Regions from separate parts of the Homo sapiens genome. Here region 2 is linked to region 1. The links come from fine-mapping of genetic effects on gene expression. Tissue or cell type: whole blood. Region 1 holds a variant in brackets; the other region holds the start of a gene. All regions are shown on one strand. Distances are between the middles of the regions.

Evidence for each region. PIP is the estimated chance that this variant, and not a neighbour inherited with it, causes the effect.
Region 2: it holds the start of TSPYL4, and the variant in region 1 is the best candidate, but not a certain one, in a credible set for the expression of TSPYL4 in whole blood (INTERVAL, PIP 0.53).

Annotation. Positions count from the first base shown.
Region 1 is chr6:116,292,183-116,296,584 of GRCh38, reverse strand. It overlaps a transcript of DSE not described here. Among named protein-coding and RNA genes, the nearest start is that of TSPYL1, 14 kb to the right of the region's middle. The variant C/G (reference allele first, on the strand shown) is at 2,140.
Region 2 is chr6:116,251,827-116,256,228 of GRCh38, reverse strand. TSPYL4 (TSPY like 4) reads left to right here and starts at 2,154. Exons shown (of 1, transcript NM_021648.5): 1 at 2,154-4,402. The coding sequence starts at 2,221. The coding sequence ends at 3,465. It also overlaps a transcript of DSE not described here. RefSeq lists enhancers at 1,783-2,012, 2,423-2,582.

The DNA.
Region 1 (4,402 bases):
TCACCACTCAGGTCTAACTTAAATATCACCTCCACACAAAACCTTAGCCCCAGTCACACTTTTAAATTACTTTATTTAGAGCATTTCTTGGGTCCTTCAAATTATCTTTTTATGTTTTCATATTTATTATCTTTCTCCTCGCATCAAAATATAAACTCCTAATAGGCAGGGATTTAGCATGTCTTGTTCAACCCCACAGTCCACCCTTCATATCCAAGGGTTCTACATCTACAGATTTAACCAACCATGAATTGAAAATATTTCAAGAAAATACGTAACAGTAAACAATAATACAAATTAAAAAATAATACAGTATAACATTGTTTACATATCATTTACATTGTATTAGATATGATGAATAATGTAGAGATGATTTGAAGTATAGGGTAGGATGTGTGTAGGTTATACACAAATACTACATCATTTTCTATCAAGGACTTCAGCATCCATGGATTTTGGTATCTGAGGGGGTACTGGAACCAATTCCCCTGGATACCAAGGGACAGCTATATATCCCCAGTATGTAGAATGTCACCAGGCACATTTTAGTGATTTCAGAAATATTTATTTAATGAAAAAATAGGTTTCCAAGATTGATGAGGTTGAATGAAAAGTGCTGTCTTTCATATTGTAAATATAATTCCAATATGCCTAGTTTATTATTGGTTTATGATAATCATAAAATGATGGTTTGCTAAGCAAAGGCAAAACTGATGAGATTATGGAAAAATTTTCCTCAGTGGAGTCCCAATTAATGAAGTTCTACTTTCAAAGAGGCTTCTATGATAATGTTATGCTTATTTTTGGAATGGAAATAAAATGACATCTTGCAATTTTCTTTTTCCCCTTAAATAAACCTACTTAAACTATAAATTAAGACTGTTCTCTTCCAGGGTTTAGTGATGCCTTGAAAAATAACTGAAACTAACAGTGTCAAAAAACATATCAGTCAATTTCCAGGAGACACATTATTGCTTTCTGAAAATCTAGACAGCTCTACTTTAAATATTTAAATTAAGGCTGTTTTATTTTATTTTCTGTATTGTGGTTTCTGCCTTGTCATTTCACATGTGGGCTAGTATAGTTGTTGGATCACATCTCATCTTACATAAAGACCTTGAAATTAAAAAATGTTTGGAAGGAAATATTTTAAATAGGAAATTTTAAATAGGAAAAAAAATCAATGGATGTAGTCAGGGTTTAATAGGATGACCACAGCAGAACATAATACTCCACAGCGAGTCTCAAAGTCCTTCAAATATAAGCCAAGCCACATTCAAGCCTTCCTTCCTCATCCACTCTCCCGCTCTCTCCCCACAACCCTCCACACCTTTGCCTAGGCTGTTCCCTGAACCTATCTCCTCCCATCTTCTCCTCTCCCACCTTTCTTCTGCCTTCAAGTCCTAGCACAAGTGTCCTTTCTTCTTCTAGGAAGCTCCTCCAACCGCCACAGCAATCAGTAGGTCTTTTTTTCTGTGTTCAGCTTGTACTTGGTAGAATATACCTAATATTCCTGTTTTCACACTGCAGTATGATTTATTTCCAAATCACCCTCCACCCCACCGTGGGCAGTCTCTCGAGGGCATGAACAGTGTCTTTTATCGTTAAATCCTCATCACTTATCATACTTACTATAGGAAGTGCTCAGTAAGGAGTTGGTGAGTAGTCTACTCATTTAACCACCTTTAGGGCTTTGAGATGGGGTGTTCTGCATATATCATTTTGCTTTCCACTGGTAATTGGTAATAAAGATGGGGTGAGAGGAAATTGGAGGAGAGACTTGTTATTCACATCTCCTCTTTTTCCTTATGTTCTTTCTGGCTTCGGGATGGGACCAGAGACTAGATGGTGAAACTCTGGGCTGAGGTTCTGATATGCTAAACCACTGGTAATGCCATGATTCAGGTACCCACTTGCAGGACTTTCCTGACATCTTCTCACTTCCCTTTACAAATACTTCCCCTATCTACCTTCATTCCAAGAGTTCTTGTGCCCACAAGCTTTAAGAACCATATTTATGGCTTTCCTATCTTCCCTGACCCTTCTATTAACCTGGCTTGACCTCAGAATTCAATCCAAGAAAGTTGGTTTACAGATTATTTAACTTACTTAAACTAATGTATGAATATAGGAGCATTT[C/G]TATTTTACAATGAATCTGTTACTGTCAATACAATTCTGATTACTAAACTACGTTTAACTTGAAAACTGTTTTTTGCTAATTCCAGCACCCTGCTTCTAAGTGTTCCATATAAAATCATTTTTGGCCAGGCACAGTGGCTCACTCCTATAATCCCAACACTTTGGGAGGCTGAACCAAAAGGATCCCTTGAGCCCAGGAGTTCAAGACCAGCCTGGGCAGCATAGCAAGACCTCATCTCTACAAAAAATTAAAAAATTAACTGGCATGGTGGCACATGCCTGTAGTCCTAGCTACTTGGGAAGCTGAGGTGGGAGGATTGCTTGAGCCCAGGAGGTCGAGGCTGCAGAGAACTGTGATCATGCCACTGCACTCCAGCCTGGGTGACAGAGTGAGACCTTGTCTCAAAAATAGAAAATAAAATAATAAATTTTTCTAAAAATAGACATATTTATTAACTATTAGCTAGTTACTAATTGTATATATATTTTAAAAACATACTTTAGACAAAAGAAATATTACCAAATAGATCACCAAGGTCACTTCTAGCTCTTTTTATTTCTTTTTGAGGCAACGTCTCATTCTGTCACCCAGGCTGGAGTGCAGTGGCGTGATCATAGCTCACTGCAGCCTTGATCTCCCTGGCTCAGGTGATCCTCCCAGTTCAGCCTCCAGACACCACCATGCCTGACTAATTTTTCTATTGTTAGTACAGCCAAAGTCTCGCTATGTTTCCTAGGCTGATCTTGAACTCCTGAGCTCAAGCAATCTTGTTGCCTTTGTCTCCGAAAGTGTTAAGATTATAGATGTGAGCTACCATGTCTGGCCTCTAGCTCATTTTAAAAGCAACCAATACTTCATAATAAAGAGGTACAACCCAGTAAATTAAGTTTTTGACTGAATTTCAGCTATTTTAAATCACTCTTCAAACAAATATTGGCCTCATCTTCCAGAATTAAGAAAAACAAACCATCATGGTGAAACCCTGTCTCTCCCAAAAGTACAAAAATTAGCTGGGCATGGTGGAGCACACCTGTAGTCCCAATTACTTGGGAGTCTGAGGCAGGAGAATAGCTTGAACCTGGGAGGCAGAGGTTGTAGTGAGCTGAGATCACGCCACTGCACTCGAGTCTGGTGACAGAGCAAGACTCCGTGTCAAAAAAAAAAAAGAAAAAAAGAAAAGGAAAAACCTTTAATTCACCTTGAACTCAATATCACATCTGAGCAAATGTTTTTGCTTCAGCTTTAAATACAAGCCCAATAACTTATTAAAGCAAATGTGTTCGTTTATGTTATTTTCTTCTTTGAATTCTGTAGTTAATTATATAAAGTTAAATTATCTCATCATTGTATGAGAGGGTTTTCTTTAATGTTTGTCTGAAAAATATTTTAAATCCAATGTGTAAAAGTCATTCCTAATGTCACCACCTCTCTTTAAAATTCTAAGAAGCAATAAGCTAAAGTCCCCTTCCCATCCTCATCCCCCAGAGATCACCACTGTTGGCAACTGGGTACACATCCTTTCTTAATATTTCTTGCATTTATATAGATACAAGGGTGTCAGCTAATATTTATTAAAATATAATTAGCATATACTTATTGGTCTGCAATGTTCTTTTACATCTTTCTAATTAACATGGATGCTTTTCCAGGTCACTACTTTGGATCCAATTTATTCCTTTTAAAGGTTACGTAATATTCAGTTGTATAAACATGCCATAATTTATCCAACCTTTCTTCTACTTACTGACATTCAGTTTGTTTTCTTTTTTTTTGTTTGTTTGCTTCCTCAACACTTCAGTGTAATAATCAGATCCTTACTCTGCTCCCAACAATGCTGCTCCCTACAAACATTCTTCCCTCAACCCTGCATCTCCTTGAACTTGTCATCCAGTCTTTCCCCTTTTCTATACTGACAATTATGAAAGAACTGGCCTCACACACTATCTATATGTTCATTTATCATTCATTTTTTCAACTCTGCAATTTTTCTGTCTTGCTACTTTTCTGAAATTGCTCTCACTAAAGACACCCATGCTGTATAGCTGCCGCCCAATTCGGAAACTTTTCTTCCCAGTCTTCATCTCACTCAATATGGCTGCATCCCTTGAACCTTAGCTTCCTGAAGTCCATTCTTCCCTTGCATACTGAAACAACACTCTTCTGGTTCTTTCCCTACCTCTAATGGCTATTTCTCAGTTTCCTCTACTTGTGCCACCTCATCTGTTTCTTTCACGTCAGTGTTCCTCAGAGCTCTATTTTTGG
Region 2 (4,402 bases), 40 kb after region 1:
AAGTTGGATAGTAAAAGTCATAAGGGCTATACAGAAATCAGAAGACTGTCAAAATGGCAAGTAATTAAGGAAGGAGGTAAAGTAATAAGGTGGGAGGAGGCAATCTGCCAATTAATACATATGTGACCATGGGCATGTTAACTGCTCTGTGCTCACTGGGTCTTTGTTTATAAAATCTAATGTATTTAAACTGCCTAGTACAATCTACATGAACTGAGTGTTAAAGAATGGCCAGGTGGTTATGAGTGAAAAATGATTCAGGTGACAGAACTAATACAGGCTAGAGATGGGAATGCTTTGAGTAGTAGAGATATAAATCTTTAAAAAACTTTGGCACACACAAAAAGAAAAAGAAGTTCACATGTAATTTTATACTTTTCTATAAATTTGTATAGTAGCAAACTTGTTTTTTCCTGCTGCATGGAAAAGTAACTTTCATTCAGTATTCCCTGCTTCTCTTCATCTTGACTCAGGTTATAATGGAAAAGTTACTCTTTCAACAGTGCAAAGGTTCTTTGGAAAAGAAACAGAGCAGTGTCAATAATTCAAAGTCACAAAGTCAATTATAGCACGCTGTTTATGTGTTTACAAAGACGATACCTCAATAGATTGATTTCACCCCACAAATAAAAAAAGAGCGTTTATTAAGACAAAGAGGAAAGAGGGAGAGAAAAATAATTGCTCTCTGCTGTGTGAATCTTGTTTGCATATTTCTTATGGGATAACTGATTAGCTGGCAGGCAGTAAAGAGGTCATTCTGGACACATTGTCCTTGGGTAGGCTGACTAGGCATACAAAAAATCCTGCAAGGCAGGCTGTTTCTCCGTATTGTCTGCCAGTGACCTTTCATCAGTACTTTATCTTAGTTGAACCAGAACTACACTCCTTCCCTCGCTAGAAGTCTCAGTATATATGATGTATTCCTCTAAGAGGAATCCTTTTTCTCTAAATCTGTACTTCTGAGCCTGTATTTGAAAGTGATCATAATCTGGGGGGCTTAAAATGGAGTTTCTTTTACAAAGAGTTATAATCATAACCGTTTATTTGAATATAAATTTGACATTAAACATAAATATGCAAAATTTAAATTTCCCTTTGGTCTTGCATTTTTCTAAGGATTAACACCATTATTCTCACACTCCAACAAACTAATATATTGTACTGATAATCACTATCAAATGAATTGTAAGAGCTAACTGACTCGAATAGACAATAACTAACCTTACTTTTAAAGTATTTTAAGAGACAGTAGCATAGATGCCTGCACATAGCTGATTATTGCTCCTGTGCTGCAGTGAATTACCACATGAACACATTTTGAAAAGATTTGTTAGCTTCATGTCCACAGGCATTATGAAGCAGGAACCACTTTTAGATTAAGATTGTAACCTGAGGAAAAGAACATATGCATCAGTTTAGAAATTAAAATCCCCTGAGATATTTCTTTCAGTAATGCTTAAAAGCCTAAATTTGTGCTCGTGTGCCAGTCACCTCTACGTAAGGAAAAACATTTTGCTACTCTTTGTTAAAAGTGAAGAGGAAATATTGTCCACTTGTTTTGTAGATGTTGGCCAAATTATATAAACTTTAAAATCTGTAAGACAAATTGAAATATTCCTTTATTATGTCTTGTTAGGATGAGAGAAGTTTGCCTTTCAGCTGCTCCTTAATTTTAAAAATAACAACACAGCAACACTTCTCTTTAAAATCAAACTCTGCTCATTTAAATTCTTTGGTAATAGCCATGAATCCACACCTTAAAAGAAGGAAGGCCTGTGAGTTCGTGAATCCACTTTCCTACTCAGGAGAAGCCCTATGAACTGACTTGAATAGACAGTAACTCACCTTAAAGTAAATATTTTCAGAAACAATAGGTTAGGTGCCTTAGAAATTCATTCAGAGGCTTAGAAATCCACATTAACACAGTTCTTACATGCTTGAGTCTGGTCTACATCCATTTACGTAAGTAAAACTCCCCTTCCAGACTGACGAAATTCTTTTTGTGACAAGAAGACAAAGGAATACGATGGATTGATAAGCGTAGTCAACCGCGCAGAGAGTTCTCGCGCGATGTTACGACGCTACCGCCCTGACATCACCAGTTGCCATGGTAGCACCGCCGAGAGTAAAGGAGGGGTGGTGCTAGACGTTTCGGGCAGAGCTCGGCCGCTGCGGAGGACAAGGAACTCTCCCTCTCCCACTAGTCTGACTTCTTCCAAAATGAGCGGCCTGGATGGGGGCAACAAGCTCCCTCTCGCCCAAACCGGCGGCCTGGCTGCTCCCGACCATGCCTCAGGAGATCCGGACCGAGACCAGTGCCAAGGGCTCCGTGAAGAAACCGAGGCGACACAGGTGATGGCGAACACAGGTGGGGGCAGCCTGGAGACCGTTGCGGAGGGGGGTGCATCCCAGGATCCTGTCGACTGTGGCCCCGCGCTCCGCGTCCCAGTTGCCGGGAGTCGCGGCGGTGCAGCGACCAAAGCCGGGCAGGAGGATGCTCCACCTTCTACGAAAGGTCTGGAAGCAGCCTCTGCCGCCGAGGCTGCTGACAGCAGCCAGAAAAATGGCTGTCAGCTTGGAGAGCCCCGTGGCCCTGCTGGGCAGAAGGCTCTAGAAGCCTGTGGCGCAGGGGGCTTGGGGTCTCAGATGATACCGGGGAAGAAGGCCAAGGAAGTGACGACTAAAAAACGCGCCATCTCGGCAGCAGTGGAAAAGGAGGGAGAAGCAGGGGCGGCGATGGAGGAAAAGAAGGTAGTGCAGAAGGAAAAAAAGGTGGCAGGAGGGGTGAAAGAGGAGACACGGCCCAGGGCCCCGAAGATCAATAACTGCATGGACTCACTGGAGGCCATCGATCAAGAGTTGTCAAACGTAAATGCCCAGGCTGACAGGGCCTTCCTTCAGCTTGAGCGCAAGTTTGGCCGCATGCGAAGGCTCCACATGCAGCGCAGAAGTTTCATTATCCAGAATATCCCAGGTTTCTGGGTTACTGCCTTTCGAAACCACCCCCAGCTGTCACCTATGATCAGTGGCCAAGATGAAGACATGCTGAGGTACATGATCAATTTGGAGGTGGAGGAGCTTAAACACCCCAGAGCAGGCTGCAAATTCAAGTTCATCTTTCAGGGCAACCCCTACTTCCGAAATGAGGGGCTTGTCAAGGAATATGAACGCAGATCCTCTGGCCGGGTGGTGTCTCTTTCCACTCCAATCCGCTGGCACCGAGGCCAAGACCCCCAGGCTCATATCCACAGAAACCGGGAAGGGAACACTATCCCTAGTTTCTTCAACTGGTTTTCAGACCACAGCCTTCTAGAATTCGACAGAATTGCAGAGATTATCAAAGGAGAACTGTGGCCCAATCCCCTACAATACTACCTGATGGGTGAAGGGCCCCGTAGAGGAATTCGAGGCCCACCAAGGCAGCCAGTGGAGAGCGCCAGATCCTTCAGGTTCCAGTCTGGCTAATCTCTGTCCTGTGAGAAGCTTCTGCACAAGTTTCCTTACCACCTCCTCTTGGACCTATGCTTGGCCAACAGCATGCAGTCTTCCATCTGCTTTCTCTTCATACTGTGGATTATCTTTTCCTTTGGTTCTAAATCTTCAGTAATCGGTTGCAAGATTGTTGGCTTACCTGCCTGTGCCATTCTTCCTCTGGGCCTTCATGCTTTTCTGCATTGTGTTAACATGTTTCAAGTGCATGGCCTTCTACGGCTTCTATGCCAAGCGTATGATACTATAGATATAGTGTACCATACTGCCTTTCTTTGCATGGCTTGGACCCTATCTGTGACCATGCTCTTCTCCCAATTTAAGTGGTTCTGTACCACAAAGAATCTTGATACATTTTCACAAATAACTGATTGGGCTTCATACTTTATGCTGGCTGTGTCCTGATACCCATGTACTTATGGTAAGCTATTTGGGTATTACCACTGCAAGACAAAACTGATATCTTAACCCGGCCATCAACCCAAATTGGACATTCCAGACTACCACCAACTGGATCCCAGCTGCCTTCCTGGGCTTGTGCCATCCACCCTACTGGTTATCTGATAGAACAAGCTGGTGGCTGATGGGTGACTGCTAGGCGTGACTGAGGTAATAGATGAAAAGTGTTCTATGTTATCACATTGGTTTTCCTGTACCTTTGGTTACTCTACGTCATGACCAGCTGCTGGTGAGTATGAAGCCTGTGCTATAGCCCACCCCTACTCACTCTCACCTTCTGGTTGAACTTTGCTTAGGCCACCATTGTCTGCCTCATCAGGAACTATCTGTAGACGTAGCTCCCAGGGAGCTCACAGCAACACCCCCTACCACCAGGATGGGCAGTAATATGTGACAGAGCCCAAAGCAAGGCTGGAACGCAGTCCCTTCCAGCTTAGTCTTTCTGACTCCTAGC